Homo sapiens: one gene and its partners. The protein of the gene in region 1 purifies or fractionates together with the protein of each later gene. This does not show direct contact. Each region holds a gene or a part of one and is shown in the gene's direction. Other genes may lie near its edges.

Region 1 (2,824 bases):
AGAGGTGATATTTGGGCAAAGATGAAGATGTCGGGGTGAGCCGAGTAGACTCGTGGAGGAAGAGTCATCCAGCTGGACAAGGTGGCAGGGCACAGACCAGCACGGTGGCTGGAGCAGAGTATGGCAGTAGAAGGAAGAGGATGAGGGCTGAGAGGTCTCAGGATTTCTTGGCCACCGCCAGGTGAAATGGGAGCTGTTGGGGGATTTTGATCAGAGGGATGTAATCTGATTTTTGTGTTACAGGGCCTTGGGCTGCCATGTGCAGAACATGGGGGTGGGGGACGGCAGGGGAGAAAGCCGAGATTGCATAGGAGACAGTAGCTGTCATCTCTGCCAGGAATGGGTGACTTTGCTGGGGTCTAAAAATGGGCAGCTAGTAGAGGAGGTGCTGGGAAAGGAGGCTGAGAAGGTTGGAGGAAGCCAAGAGGGGCAGTGATGTTGGGAAGAGAGGGTGTTGAAAGTGGTGCCAGCCATGGCGGACACTGCATGCTTTGTCTGATGAAGGATACACCTGCAGGGGTGTTATAGGATCTCAGCCTGTGTGTCATGGGTGCTGGCCTTGAGGCCTGGGAGTCTGACTGGGCTGCTGGGGCCTGGATGGTATGCACCCTCATGGGCATGGAACCCAGCCTTATGAAGGGGGCCCAGGGGTTTGGGTGTGGCACCAGCTTGGGATCACTGTCACAGTGAAGTTCCCTTCTGCGGCTCTCAGCTCAGGCCCACTTTGCCCAGAAGACATGTTTCTACCCAACCAGCTGTGTTTTCAAAGCCGCTGAGCTTCTCCAAAGACAGTTCTTAGCACAGCATGATGGAGAGGAGGCTAGGGTGCTGTGGGGAGCCTCTGTCTCATATCACCTTCCATCAGGAAGCCCCTTTCTATTCTGTATCTGGAGCTCCTTCAGTTCCTTCCTGTCTGCAGCTCCCTCTGCTTTTCTCTCTGTGGCGTGGTCTGTTGGCCACCAGGTGTCGCTCTCACAGCCAGGATCAGTGCTTAGGGACTTTGAGGTGTGGTTTGGCCAGAGGAGGGTGCTGTTGGCTCAGCTTTTTCTGGGAAAATGGGTCACCTGGCCACCTCTTTGGGGTCCTCAGAGTCACTGGCACTCTTGGGCTCAGGTGAGGCCTGATTCTGGATAACAGGAGACTCCCTGCTGTCCAGGTAATGAGAAGCAGGCCCAAACATCAAAGCAAGATGGAAAAGGGAAAGATGAGAGAAACCTAACCTGTTGAGCAATGGCAGGTTGGAGAGGAAAGAGAAAGCTTATGGAAGTCGTGAAGTGTGAGACTGAGAGTTGGTAGCCTGGAAAGTCTGGGGGCGGAGTTGTATGGCGTGAACCTAAGAAAAGTCCTCTGTGGCAAAAACAGTTTTGTTTTGTTTTTTTTTGCCCCTGGAATTATCTTAGAGGAGAGCTGAGAGTTTTCTGTCTTGGGTCACAAATGGCCTGTGTCCTTAGGTCCTTGCACAGAATTGAAACTCTGCTTCCCTTGTGCTGAGGCAGTCCTTGGAGAGTCTGGGGAGTTGGTTTTGAGGCTGTTTTACAGAAATGATCCTGGATCTTAGTCTTCCTGAATTCCCCTGAGTTCCACAACATTGCAGGGAGTATTTATGCGTCTTTGTGGGGCTTTGTCAGCATGTGTACAAGTCTGGTTTAAAAACTGTCTTTGACATCAGAAACCTGGGCACCAGGATTCTCATTCAAGTCACAGCAGAGAGACCTGGAGGATGTAGGGAAGTGGGTAGCAGGGAAGGGTCCGCTTTGTGTGGCATGGTGGCGGGCACTGGAAGGTATGGCATCCTAGAGGCTCGTCCCCAACTGTGTTCCATTGTCCAAGAGCACCCAGAGGAGAGCCTGACCATCCTCTTGCCACAGGGGCCACAGTCTCTGGGCCCAACAGGGTGGTGCTCAGTTTAGATGATTTGAGTGGGGATTAGTCTGTTCAGAACTGTCCCTAGGCCTCAAAACTGACTTATGTCCAGCCTTTCTCAGCTGTGAGCTGACCTGTCTGGCGTCCCCCTCACAGATCTCAGGATGATGGGGCGCAGCCCTGGGTTTGCCATGCAGCACATCGTGGGTGTGCCCCACGTACTGGTTCGGAGGGGCCTCCTTGGAAGGGACCTCTTCATGACCAGGACTCTCTGCAGCCCAGGCCCAAGCCAGCCCGGAGAGAAAAGACCTGAGGAGGTGGCCCTGGGGCTGCACCACCGCCTCCCAGCACTGGGAAGAGCCCTGGGGCACAGCATTCAGCAACGAGCGACCTCCACAGCCAAGACTTGGTGGGACAGATATGAAGAGTTTGTTGGACTCAACGAGGTTCGAGAGGCCCAGGGAAAGGTGACAGAGGTGAGGAGGGGAGCTGGGGTGGCTGGCCCCGCCCTCTGACTTGGGAAATGTGCCAAACCAGTCACGTGGTGCTGGGTAGCCACATCCAGACTTGTGTTTAGCCTCATTTCTCACGTGGAAACCTGGGCTTGATGCTTCTGGGGTGAAGGTCTCCATGTAACTGTGCCACCTACTTTCCCCGAAAACAGTTACTGTGTACCAGTAAGTCCCTGGCCACTAACATCCACTCTGTGAGGCCAGCAAATACTTCCTTTGTGGACCATTTGGGGATTGATGGTGAGAGTTACGTGGGGCTTGCTGCGGTACTGTTACTGTGTGTAATTACAACATCTTTTGTGAAGATAGAGGGCACTAGGAAATGTCACAGTGTGAGGTGGAAAGAGCTGGTGGTGGTTGTCAAGTCCTTTGTGGTGGCAGAAATGCATTCTGTCATCTCTGTTCCCACTCCTGCTTAGGCATGTAGTAGTGTAGCGTGGTGGGAAGAA
Region 2 (3,601 bases), on another chromosome or scaffold:
GGTGGGCACCAGCCTGAGCGGGGCGTGGGGTGGGTGCTGCGACCCCGGCCCCGCTGACCCCGGCCCCGCTCACCCCCGCCCCGCTCACCCCCGCCCCGCTCACCCCGCCCCGCTCACCCCGGACCCCGCTCACCCCCGCCCCGCTCACCCCCGACCCCGCTCACACCCGCCCCGCTCACCCCCGCCCCGCTCACCCCCGCCCCGCTCACCCCGGACCCCGCTCACCCCCGCCCCGCTCACCCCCGGCCCCGCTCACACCCGCCCCGCTCACCCCCGCCCCGCTCACCCCGGACCCCGCTCACCCCGGACCCCGCTCACACCCGCCCCGCTCACACCCGGCCCCGCTCACCCCCGCCCCGCTCACCCCCGGCCCGCTCACACCCGGCCCCGCTCACACCCGGCCCCGCTCACACCCGCCCCGCTCACCCCCGGCCCCGCTCACACCTGCCCCGCTCACACCCGGCCCCGCTCACACCCGGCCCCGCTCACACCCGGCCCGCTCACACCCGCCCCGCTCACCCCCGGCCCCGCTCACACCCGGCCCCGTTCACACCCGCCCCGCTCACACCCGCCCCGCTCACCCCCGGCCCGCTCACACCCGCCCCGCTCACCCCCGGCCCGCTCACACCCGGCCCCGCTCACACCCGGCCCCGCTCACACCCGCCCCGCTCACCCCCGGCCCCGCTCACACCCGCCCCGCTCACACCCGGCCCCGCTCACACCCGGCCCGCTCACACCCGCCCCGCTCACACCCGCCCCGCTCACACCCGCCCCGCTCACCCCCGGCCCCGCTCACCCCCGGCCCCGTTCACACCCGCCCCGCTCACACCCGCCCCGCTCACCCCCGGCCCGCTCACCCCCGGCCCCGCTCACACCCGGCCCCGCTCACACCCGCCCCGCTCACACCCGGCCCCGCTCACACCCGGCCCCGCTCACACCCGGCCCCGCTCACACCCGCCCCGCTCACCCCCGCCCCGCTCACCCCCGGCCCCGCTCACCCCCGGCCCCGCTCACCCCCGACCCCGCTCACCCCCGACCCCGCTCACCCCCGCCCCGCTCACCCCCGCCCCGCTCACCCCCGACCCCCGGCCCCGCTCACCCCCGACCCCCGGCCCCGCTCACCCCCGGCTCCACTGACCCCGGCCCCGCTCACCCCGGACCCCGCTCACCCCCGACCCCCGGCCCCGCTCACCCCCGGCTCCACTGACCCCGGCCCCGCTCACCCCGGACCCCGCTCACCCCCGACCCCCGGCCCCGCTCACCCCCGACCCCCGGCCCCGCTCACCCCCGGCTCCACTGACCCCGGCCCCGCTCACCCCGGACCCCGCTCACCCCCGACCCCCGGCCCCGCTCACCCCCGGCTCCACTGACCCCGGCCCCGCTCACCCCGGACCCCGCTCACCCCCGACCCCCGGCCCCGCTCACCCCCGGCTCCACTGACCCCGGCCCCGCTCACCCCGACCCCGCTCACCCCAGACCCCCGGCCCCGCTCACCCCCGGCTCCACTGACCCCGGCCCCGCTCACCCCGGACCCCGCTCACCCCCGACCCCCGGCCCCGCTCACCCCCGGCTCCACTGACCCCGGCCCCGCTCACCCCGGACCCCGCTCACCCCCGACCCCCGGCCCCGCTCACCCCCGACCCCCGGCCCCGCTCACCCCCGGCTCCACTGACCCCGGCCCCGCTCACCCCGGACCCCGCTCACCCCCGACCCCCGGCCCCGCTCACCCCCGGCTCCACTGACCCCGGCCCCGCTCACCCCGGACCCCGCTCACCCCCGACCCCCGGCCCCGCTCACCCCCGGCTCCACTGACCCCGGCCCCGCTCACCCCGACCCCGCTCACCCCCGACCCCCGGCCCCGCTCACCCCCGGCCCCGCTCACCCCGACCCCGCTCACCCCCGACCCCCGGCCCCGCTCACCCCCGACCCGCTCACCCCGACCCCGCTCACCCCCGACCCCCGGCCCCGCTCACCCCCGACCCGCTCACCCCGACCCCGCTCACCCCCGCCCCGCTCACCCCTGCCCCGCTCACCCCGGGCCCCGCTCACCCCCGGCCCCGCTCACCCCGACCCCGCTCACCCCCGACCCCCGGCCCCGCTCACCCCCGGCCCCGCTCACCCCCGCCCCGCTCACCCCCGCCCCGCTCACCCCGGGACCCGCTCACCCCGACCCCGCTCACCCCGGACCCCGCTCACCCCCGCCCCGCTCACCCCGGACCCCGCTCACCCCCGACCCCCGGCCCCGCTCACCCCCGCCCCGCTCACCCCGGACCCCGCTCACCCCCGCCCCACTCACACCCGACCCGCTCACCCCGACCCGCTCACCCCGACCCGCTCACCCCGACCCCGCCGACTCCTCCCCGCCCTGCGCAGCTGCCCCTCGCCGCCGATGCGCTCACCTTCGCGGAGGTGTCCAAGGACCCCAAGGGCCTCGAGTGGCTGTGGAGCCCCCAGATCGTGGGGCTGTACAACCGGCTGCTGCAGCGCTGCGAGCTCAACCGGCACACGACGGAGGCGGCCGCCGGGGCGCTGCAGAACATCACGGCAGGCGACCGCAGGGTGGGGCACCCAACCCAGACCCGAGGGGGTCCCAGGGGTTCATGCGGTTGAGGGGGGGACAGAGGAGGGAGAGGGAGGGGAGGAGGAAGGGGACGCCCAGGGTCCGCGGAGCCTCGGAGGTCAGCGTCCCGGTGGCGCAGGCCTTGGGCCTTGGGAGGATGGAAGTCCTGCCCTGGGTTTGAAGGGAGGCACCTGATCCGGGCTGCGGCTGATTCCCCCCGGCTGGGGGGCAAAGGCAGAAGCAGAGGCCCCCCTGAGGGTGGCGAGAGGATGCAGCGACCCCATTGTGGCAGGACCCCCTCAGGTGAGGGTCTGAGGCCTCCGGGTCACGGCTCACACCCTCCCTCCCCACAGTGGGCGGGGGTGCTGAGCCGCCTGGCCCTGGAGCAGGAGCGTATTCTGAACCCCCTGCTAGACCGTGTCAGGACCGCCGACCACCACCAGCTGCGCTCACTGACTGGCCTCATCCGAAACCTGTCTCGGAACGCTAGGAACAAGGACGAGATGTGTGAGTCGGGCAGCCCCTCGTCCCTGCCCTGCTGGACCCACATGTCAATTTTGTCTTTAAGTGTGGGCTTCAGACCACTGGGGCCAGTCCAGCTCCCTGGGGGAGGCAGGGGACCCCAGGTGCCCAGGTGGCCAGGAGTAGGGGTGCAGACTGACCCCCGGCCTCCCACAGCCACGAAGGTGGTGAGCCACCTGATCGAGAAGCTGCCGGGCAGCGTGGGTGAGAAGTCGCCCCCAGCCGAGGTGCTGGTCAACATCATAGCTGTGCTCAACAACCTGGTGGTGGCCAGCCCCATCGCTGCCCGAGACCTGCTGTATTTTGACGGACTCCGAAAGCTCATCTTCATCAAGAAGAAGCGGGACAGGTAGGGGCCGACCCAGCCGTGCAGCAGCCTGGTCAGGGGTCCTCCCAGTCCACCCTGCTTTCTGGCTGTGTGTCCCCTCCTGACTGCCCTCCACCCTCAGCCCCGACAGTGAGAAGTCCTCCCGGGCAGCATCCAGCCTCCTGGCCAACCTGTGGCAGTACAACAAGCTC
Region 3 (3,601 bases), on another chromosome or scaffold:
TAGCCTTTCTGTAAGTAGCACTGAAACACCTTCTTAGGCAGATCCACACCCCCCCGCGTGTGTGGCAGACGCTGGCTGGTGGTGTGGAGCGCCGCGAGGCAGGTGATGAGAACACAGCCACGATTTAGTCACCGCAGAGAAGCAGTGTGTGGACTTGAGCTAGAAATCCGGACACCTTCCATCTTTTCCTAGTTTCACTTCTCAAGTTGAAATCTCTCACCCTTTCTGAACCATGTATTTTCCAATCTGTCAAGGGGGTCAGGAGTGTTTGTCAGAGAAGCATCTATAGCATCTGTGCCCTCTACGTGCCCTCTGGCGGAAGTTGTTTTCCTGAAACTTTGGACCAGCTTTGGCATTTTAAGCAGGTTTGTTGGCAAAGAGATGGACTGGCAGCAGCAGGGAGGGAGCAATGTGTCTGTCTCACTTGGATTCTGCCCCGAGGGCTCACAATCTGTTTTCCCTGCAGCACCAAGTACCCTAGCGCCACTCAGCAAATGCGAGTTAACGGAATCAGCCCGGCTTCTACAGGGAACCTGGGCTCCTTTGCCTCAGGAAGGCAAGTGGCTTCCCAGACAGCGTAATTTGGGAGGATGCATCGCTCTGCCACCCAGGCTGGAGTGCAATGGCGCGATCTCAGCTCACTGCAGCCTCTTCCTCCCGGGTTCAAGCGATTCTCTTGGCTCAGCCTCCCTACTAGCTGGGATTATAGGCATGCACCACTGCACCTGGCTAATTTTTGTATTTTTAGTAGAGACGGGGTTTCACCATGTTGCCCAGGCTGGTCTCAGGTGATCTGCCCGCCTCGGCCTCCCAAAGTGCTGGGATTATAGGCGTAAGCCACCGTGTCTATGGCCAAGCCTCTCTGAATTAGACAACAACTAGATAACCTACTTGGAAATTTGATTAGCATCTTCCAGATTTTCCACAATGAGGAGCGTCATCCCCAGCAGCTTGAAGGCCTAATTTTGTGTTTATTACCACAGTGACTTTGCTTTTTAAACCAGTAGGATTCTGCCAGGGAAGACTTGGAAGTGGCAGGAGACCCTGCTCTGCTGTAGGAAAGGATGTTCTCAGAGTTTCTGCCCTGTTCATAGTTTACATCCAATGCACACACACGCAGTTTCCTTATGTGACTGCGTCCTTGTTCCTCCTCATGCTGTGATTTCACCTGTGGACTGCTCTGTGTACTCCCATAGCATTAACCAGTCATGGGATGTGGGCTCCCAAAGCGAGGCCTAGCCTCGAGTGAGGAGGCAGCTCCCTTCAGAGAAGGGCAGTGTCCAGGAGGGACTTGTGGTCTGTTAGCACCAGTACACCTGGTGCCTCAGTCTTCCAGGGGGAATGCAGACAGAGCCACAGCACTCACCTCTGCAGCAGTTCTCAGACGTGCCCCCGACCCGCAGCCTCACCTCAGAAAGGCAACTCTTCCAGCCCCACTCTGGAGGGACGGAATCAGAAGCTGGGGAAAGGTCCAGCAGTCTGTGCGCACAGCCCTCTGGGGGATTCTGAGGCATGCTCAGGTTTGAGAGCCCCTGCATTATAATGATAGAAATAGTTGTAAATGGAGCCAGGCACAGTGGCTCATGCCTGTAATCCCAGCACCTTGGGAGGCCAAGGTGGGTGGATCACTTGAGGTCAGGAGTTTGAGACCAGCCTGGCCAATGTGGCAAAACTCCGTCTCTACTTAAAGTACAAAAAATAGCAACGTGTGGTGGTGCACGCCTGTAATCCCAGCTACTCAGGAGGCTGAGGCAGGAGAATCTCTTGAACCTGGGAGGTGGAGGTTGCAGTGAGCTGAGATTGCGCCACTGCACTCCAGCCTGGGTGACAGAGCCAGACTCCATCTCAATATATATATATATATATGTATGTATAAATAAATATATATGTATATTTATAAACTTTTTTTTTCAAAAACCATTTTAAAATGTTAAACATACGTGTCATAGGACCCAGCCCTTCACTCCTGGGTATTGAACTGAGAGAGGAAGGCATATGTACGCACAAAGACCTGTACGTGGATGCTCATAGCAGCTGTACTCACAATACCTTTAAACTAGAGACAACCCAGGTTCATCAGTAGGTGAATGGATAAACAGAGTGTGGTGTATCTACACAGCAGAGTACTTAAGAAGTGAGCTGTTGATAACCCAGCGTCATGGGTGAATGTCTAAGTTATGCAGAGTGAAAGAAGCCAGACCAAAAAAAAAAAAAACCCATATATATATATATATATATATATACACACACACACACACACACACACACACACACACACACACTCTATATATATATGTACTATGTATATGTGTACTATATATGTATATATACACTATATATACACACTATATACACACTATATATATATATATATATATATATATATATATATATATATATATATATATATAGTGTGTGTGTGTGTGTGTGTGTGTGTGTTTAGTTTTTGAGACAGAGTCTTGCTCTGTTGCCCAGGCTGGAGTGCAGTGGTGCAATTTCGGCTCCACTGCAACCTCCACCTCCTCCTGGGTTCTAGTGATTCTCCTGCCTCAGCCACCCAAGTAGCTGGGATTACAGGTGTGTGCCATCATGCCCGGATAATTTTGGTATTTTTAGTAGAGACCTGGGTTTCTCCACATTGGCAAGGCTGGTCTCGAACTCCTGGCCTCAAGTGATCCACCCGCCTCGGCCTCCCAAAGTGTTGGGATTACAGGCGTGATCCACCACGCTTGGCCTATATATATTTATATGCTATAAATATATAAAAGTCCATTGATAGAAAAGTCTAGAGTGCAAACCATAGTGATAAGAAAGATCAGTGGTTGCCTGGGAATGGGGTAAAGAGCAAGAAAGGGTTGGATTATTAAAAAAAATGAGGAAATTTTGAGGGGGATGATGGATGTGTTTATTATTATGATGTACTGGTGTCTCCATTGTGTACATATGTCAGAACTCATCAGGTAATGTACCTGATCAAGTTGTATAGCAGTTTATATGTCAAGAACACCTCAACAGAGCTGTAAAAAAAACACGACAGGTCTGACAGTTACCTGGGAAAGGTGGGGGAACAGGTGGTAGAAGAACACATTTTTTATGATGTTCATGGTACTTACATAACATAAATGAATAAAATAGGGCCAACATGGAAAAGAAAACAAAATGAAGGAAAATGTCAAATTGCCATCCTGAACACCAGCACCGCCTGTAATTAGCGTTCCTGGCTGCAGCCACATCTGCGGTCCTGCTCCTCATGAAGCCGTCCTCCGTGCCATGTCCCGGCCATGCCTGTCCTTAGCTTCCTGGTGCACACTGTCCTCCACCTTGTGTTCAGGCACAGGGCTGCTTGGCTCACCCTTGCTGCACCTGGCCTGTCCGTCCTCCCACCGCGGTGCCGCCCAGGCCTTCCCACTGCAGGGCTGGCTAACGGTGCATGGAAGAGACTCGAGTCCGTGTTGTGTCCTCATAGCCCACCGAGGAGGCAGCAGTGCCGGACATTTCGCGGATAGGTTGTGGTCTCTGAGTCTCCTCCTCTCAAGAGGATGAGATTTGTCTGTGTTATTGTCAAAACTCTTATTTGTCACGCCGCGGGTTATGTGTCAGT
Region 4 (3,443 bases), on another chromosome or scaffold:
GCCTTTGTCATTTTCTTGCTTTAAAGGAATATATTCGACTCTGTCAGAAATATTACTCCTCAGAACCCCAGGCAGTAGACTTCCTAGAATGTGCAGAAGAAGCTAGAAAAAAGATTAATTCCTGGGTCAAGACTCAAACCAAAGGTAAATCCAAGAAAATATTTTATTTACTTCTTTCCAGTTAGAAAACTCTGATCTATCTTTTTCCATCCATGAACTTAGTTAGCCCTCACCCCTTTACAATTTGTCCAACTGCAGTTACTTTGGTGGATGTGAATTTATTCCTGATTAGCTCAGTGGTGTTTTAACTGAGAAGAAATAATTGAGGCCTACTAATAGAAGACATATGTTTAGTACTTAAATATTTGATTTTGGATATTGCTTGAGGATAGAATATGAAAGGAGGCAGAAGCTTTCAAAATAGGAAATATCAGCATTGAAATAATTGTGAGTCTATGCCCACTGTGGACAAAAAGAAAACAAGGCTTGACCCTGAGCTTAGTAAATGGTGTGAGCTATAAAGAATACAGGCAGTGGAGGAGGGAAGAATCATAAAATTATTTTCACTCTTTCTTCTCTTTCACCATTCAAAGCCAATCCATTGTCAAGTTTTTTTGGTCTCTGCTTCATCCCTCCTTGATTATCTAAGTCACGTCTACCATTTTAACTCATGCTTTTAATTGTTTCACAGGCTCCTGCCTCCCTCTGTATATTTTACAATGAATAAATTATTTAATTGAATCATTTATTCATTGTAATTTAGTTTATTAAGTCATTTATTCATTGAATTCATTCATTCATTAAGTTCTATTAAGTTCATTCACTTAGTCAACAAATATTTATCCACCACACACCATATTCCAGAAACTATATGTGGAGATAAAGATAAAAATGGTAAATCCTGCCACCATAGAGCCTATAGAGGAGGGATTCAGTCATGTTGGCAATTGCTATAGAGTAGTAGTCAGTGCTTTCATTGAGAAGTACAGGTGCTATGTGGGAGTACACAGGAAAGGCATCTGACTGGATTTAAAAATGATTAAATTGTAATTGGGAAGACAGGCTGGAGCTGGCCAGGTGGAGGGTGCATGCCTGGGGGGAGATTTCCAGACAGAGTGCACAGAATATGCAAAGGTCCAGAGGTAACCCTAAGGAGAAGAATAGAGTCTGGTCTGACTGCAGTGTGGAGGGCCAAGGGAAGGAGGTGAAATTAAAGAGGTGATGCAGTACACTTATTATGCTATTCCCACACTAAAAACTGTCAGTGACCTCCTACTGTCCTCAGGAGAAGGTCTCATTCTTTACCTTGACTTCTGAGTTCTCAGTAATCCAGTTGACTGTGCTTGGCTACCACTGGCCCTTGGAGCTCCTTAAACACTCATTGCTGCCTCTAGACTTTGTTTCTGAGGATGCCTCAACTACAGGATTTAAGTTGCAGTTTAAATTGCAGCCAAAGTCTTACTCTTTCCTGGAAGTGACTCCCAATTACTTCCTGATCTTTTCTTCTTCTCATCTCCTCATCTGCTTTTTCAGCTTCACAAGTCACATTAGTGTTAGCCATATATGGCCTTAAACAATTATGGAACTGATTTTTGTTAGTTTGTTTTGCTTTTCCTCTCAGGCTCTAATTATTTTTGGGTAGGTCCAGTATGTCACACTTATCCTATGCCCCCACAAAAATTTGCACAGTTTTTTGCTGACAGTGAAAATCCTTCATTCTTCTGAATTTCCAGGTAGAGTTGTAGGCCTTAAGTAAACAATTGCTGAATAATAACATATAAATGTATTTCTAAGAAACAGAGATGATTATGAATTCAGAATTGTGTAAGTATTTCATTCATTTATGATCTGTTAGGATTGAAAATGTCCTAAGAGAGCTCCTATCCATCTTACCAATTTGTGGTTGGAGCATCCTGTTCCCAGGGGATTAGCCGGCTCCCCTAAGATCCCACTGGTAGCGGTAAAGCCAGGGTTGCTTCTTCTTCTGATCCTTAGTCTAACTCCAGAATTCCTCAATCGGATGTTTAAAAATTTTATAACTTATTTTTTTAAGGATTTTCATTTAACTCTTATGTTTAAGACATTGTTTCAAGAAATAGTTTGGTGTCTTGCTTTATTAATTACCACAATGGAAAATGCACATAAACTAAGTGCTATGGGATTTCAAAAAATATATATTTATTTGTTTATCTGAAAATAATTGATTTCCTTTTAGTTCTTCATTTTCATTGTGGATTTGTGAAATACTGTTCTAAAATATTGACAGACCACTGACACAAAGGAAGCAGAGAAAGATGATTTAAATCAAAAGTTCAAGTAAAAATGGAGAGCAAAATTAAAGAGACACATGGAAGTTTTGCCTTCTTTAAAGAATGGCATGAATTGTTTTTCTCTTTAGACATTGTGCTAAATGGCTGTAAGTCAATCAGTTATTTTGCCAAAATGCCAAGCAGCTATTTTGGCAGATTGTTTTACCAGCTTTTGTAAGAATTGGAGAGAATTGTCTGTTTCATCATGCTATGATCAAATACTAGTTTTATCATATACATCACAACATTACTATACCCCAATACTAACCAAAAATTTTAATAGCTTGGGAAATATATTGAATGTATATATTAAATGAATACATTGAAGATGAAACTGATGCAAGGCAGGCAAGCTCCAAAGTGGGGCTTAGCCTTCAAGGGTTCTTGGCTTCACCCAGGAAAGTATTCAAGGGTGAGCTGGAGGTAGGGTAGAAGAAAACAGCTTTATTGAAGTGGCAGTATTACAGCTCCATGATTCCTCCTGCAGAGAAGGGCTACCCCAGGCACTGTGCTGAGAGGCACAGCTCAGGGCAGTTTGGGGGTCATATTTATACCTACTTTTAATTACATGTAGATTAAGGGGCAGTTTACGCAGAAATTTCTAGGGAACGGGGAATAACTTTTGGGTCATCAGGTCATTGCCACAGAAAGAGGTGGTAACTCCAAGGTGTTGCCATCACAATGGTAAACTGACATGGTACACTGCTTCCATCCTGTCCCTGGTCCCCATTTTAGCTAGCCCTCAATTTGGCCTGGTGTCTAAAACCTGCCTCCAGAGTCAGGTCCCACCTCCTACTTCAAAACCACATTGACCTATTAATTTGTTAAGAGTCTTGTATTTGTCAGTAGTTTTGACTGTGGAGGCAGAATTTTTACAAGCTTACCAGCATTGTAACGTTGGGAAGACTGCTAACCTGGTGGTGTCCTTTTGCATAAAATGACACTAATAAAACCCACCTAATAGAGTATCAAAATAATATATTTTGATGCTTGGAATACTGCAGAGCGAGTACTAACTATAAACAAACTGCTTCTTAAACCAATTTCATTTTTTTAAATGACCACACTCATTTGTCATTGTTTCTGTCAATCTTCTCGGGCTTACTCCTTCACTCCCTTCTCTGTATGATCATA

What was found. Proteins that work in one complex are often made in the same cells at the same time.
Region 2: the proteins of CCDC51 (region 1) and PKP3 purify together in Homo sapiens (affinity purification with mass spectrometry; 3 studies listed by BioGRID and IntAct, with this or other methods). This does not show direct contact.
Region 3: the proteins of CCDC51 (region 1) and DUSP14 purify together in Homo sapiens (affinity purification with mass spectrometry; 3 studies listed by BioGRID and IntAct, with this or other methods). This does not show direct contact.
Region 4: the proteins of CCDC51 (region 1) and SERPINB2 purify together in Homo sapiens (affinity purification with mass spectrometry; 3 studies listed by BioGRID and IntAct, with this or other methods). This does not show direct contact.

The regions. Positions count from the first base shown.
Region 1 is NC_000003.12:48,434,332-48,437,155, reverse strand, and holds part of CCDC51 (mitochondrial potassium channel), read left to right. Parts: intron 1-2,019; 5' UTR 2,020-2,027; coding exon 2,028-2,339; intron 2,340-2,824.
Region 2 is NC_000011.10:400,705-404,305, forward strand, and holds part of PKP3 (plakophilin-3), read left to right. Parts: coding exon 1-1; intron 2-2,373; coding exon 2,374-2,559; intron 2,560-2,913; coding exon 2,914-3,067; intron 3,068-3,238; coding exon 3,239-3,431; intron 3,432-3,531; coding exon 3,532-3,601. UniProt on the Homo sapiens protein: A component of desmosome cell-cell junctions which are required for positive regulation of cellular adhesion. Required for the localization of DSG2, DSP and PKP2 to mature desmosome junctions.
Region 3 is NC_000017.11:37,506,887-37,510,487, forward strand, and holds part of DUSP14 (dual specificity protein phosphatase 14), read left to right. Parts: intron 1-3,601. UniProt on the Homo sapiens protein: Involved in the inactivation of MAP kinases. Dephosphorylates ERK, JNK and p38 MAP-kinases. Plays a negative role in TCR signaling by dephosphorylating MAP3K7 adapter TAB1 leading to its inactivation.
Region 4 is NC_000018.10:63,897,701-63,901,143, forward strand, and holds part of SERPINB2 (plasminogen activator inhibitor 2), read left to right. Parts: intron 1-26; coding exon 27-144; intron 145-3,443. UniProt on the Homo sapiens protein: Inhibits urokinase-type plasminogen activator. The monocyte derived PAI-2 is distinct from the endothelial cell-derived PAI-1.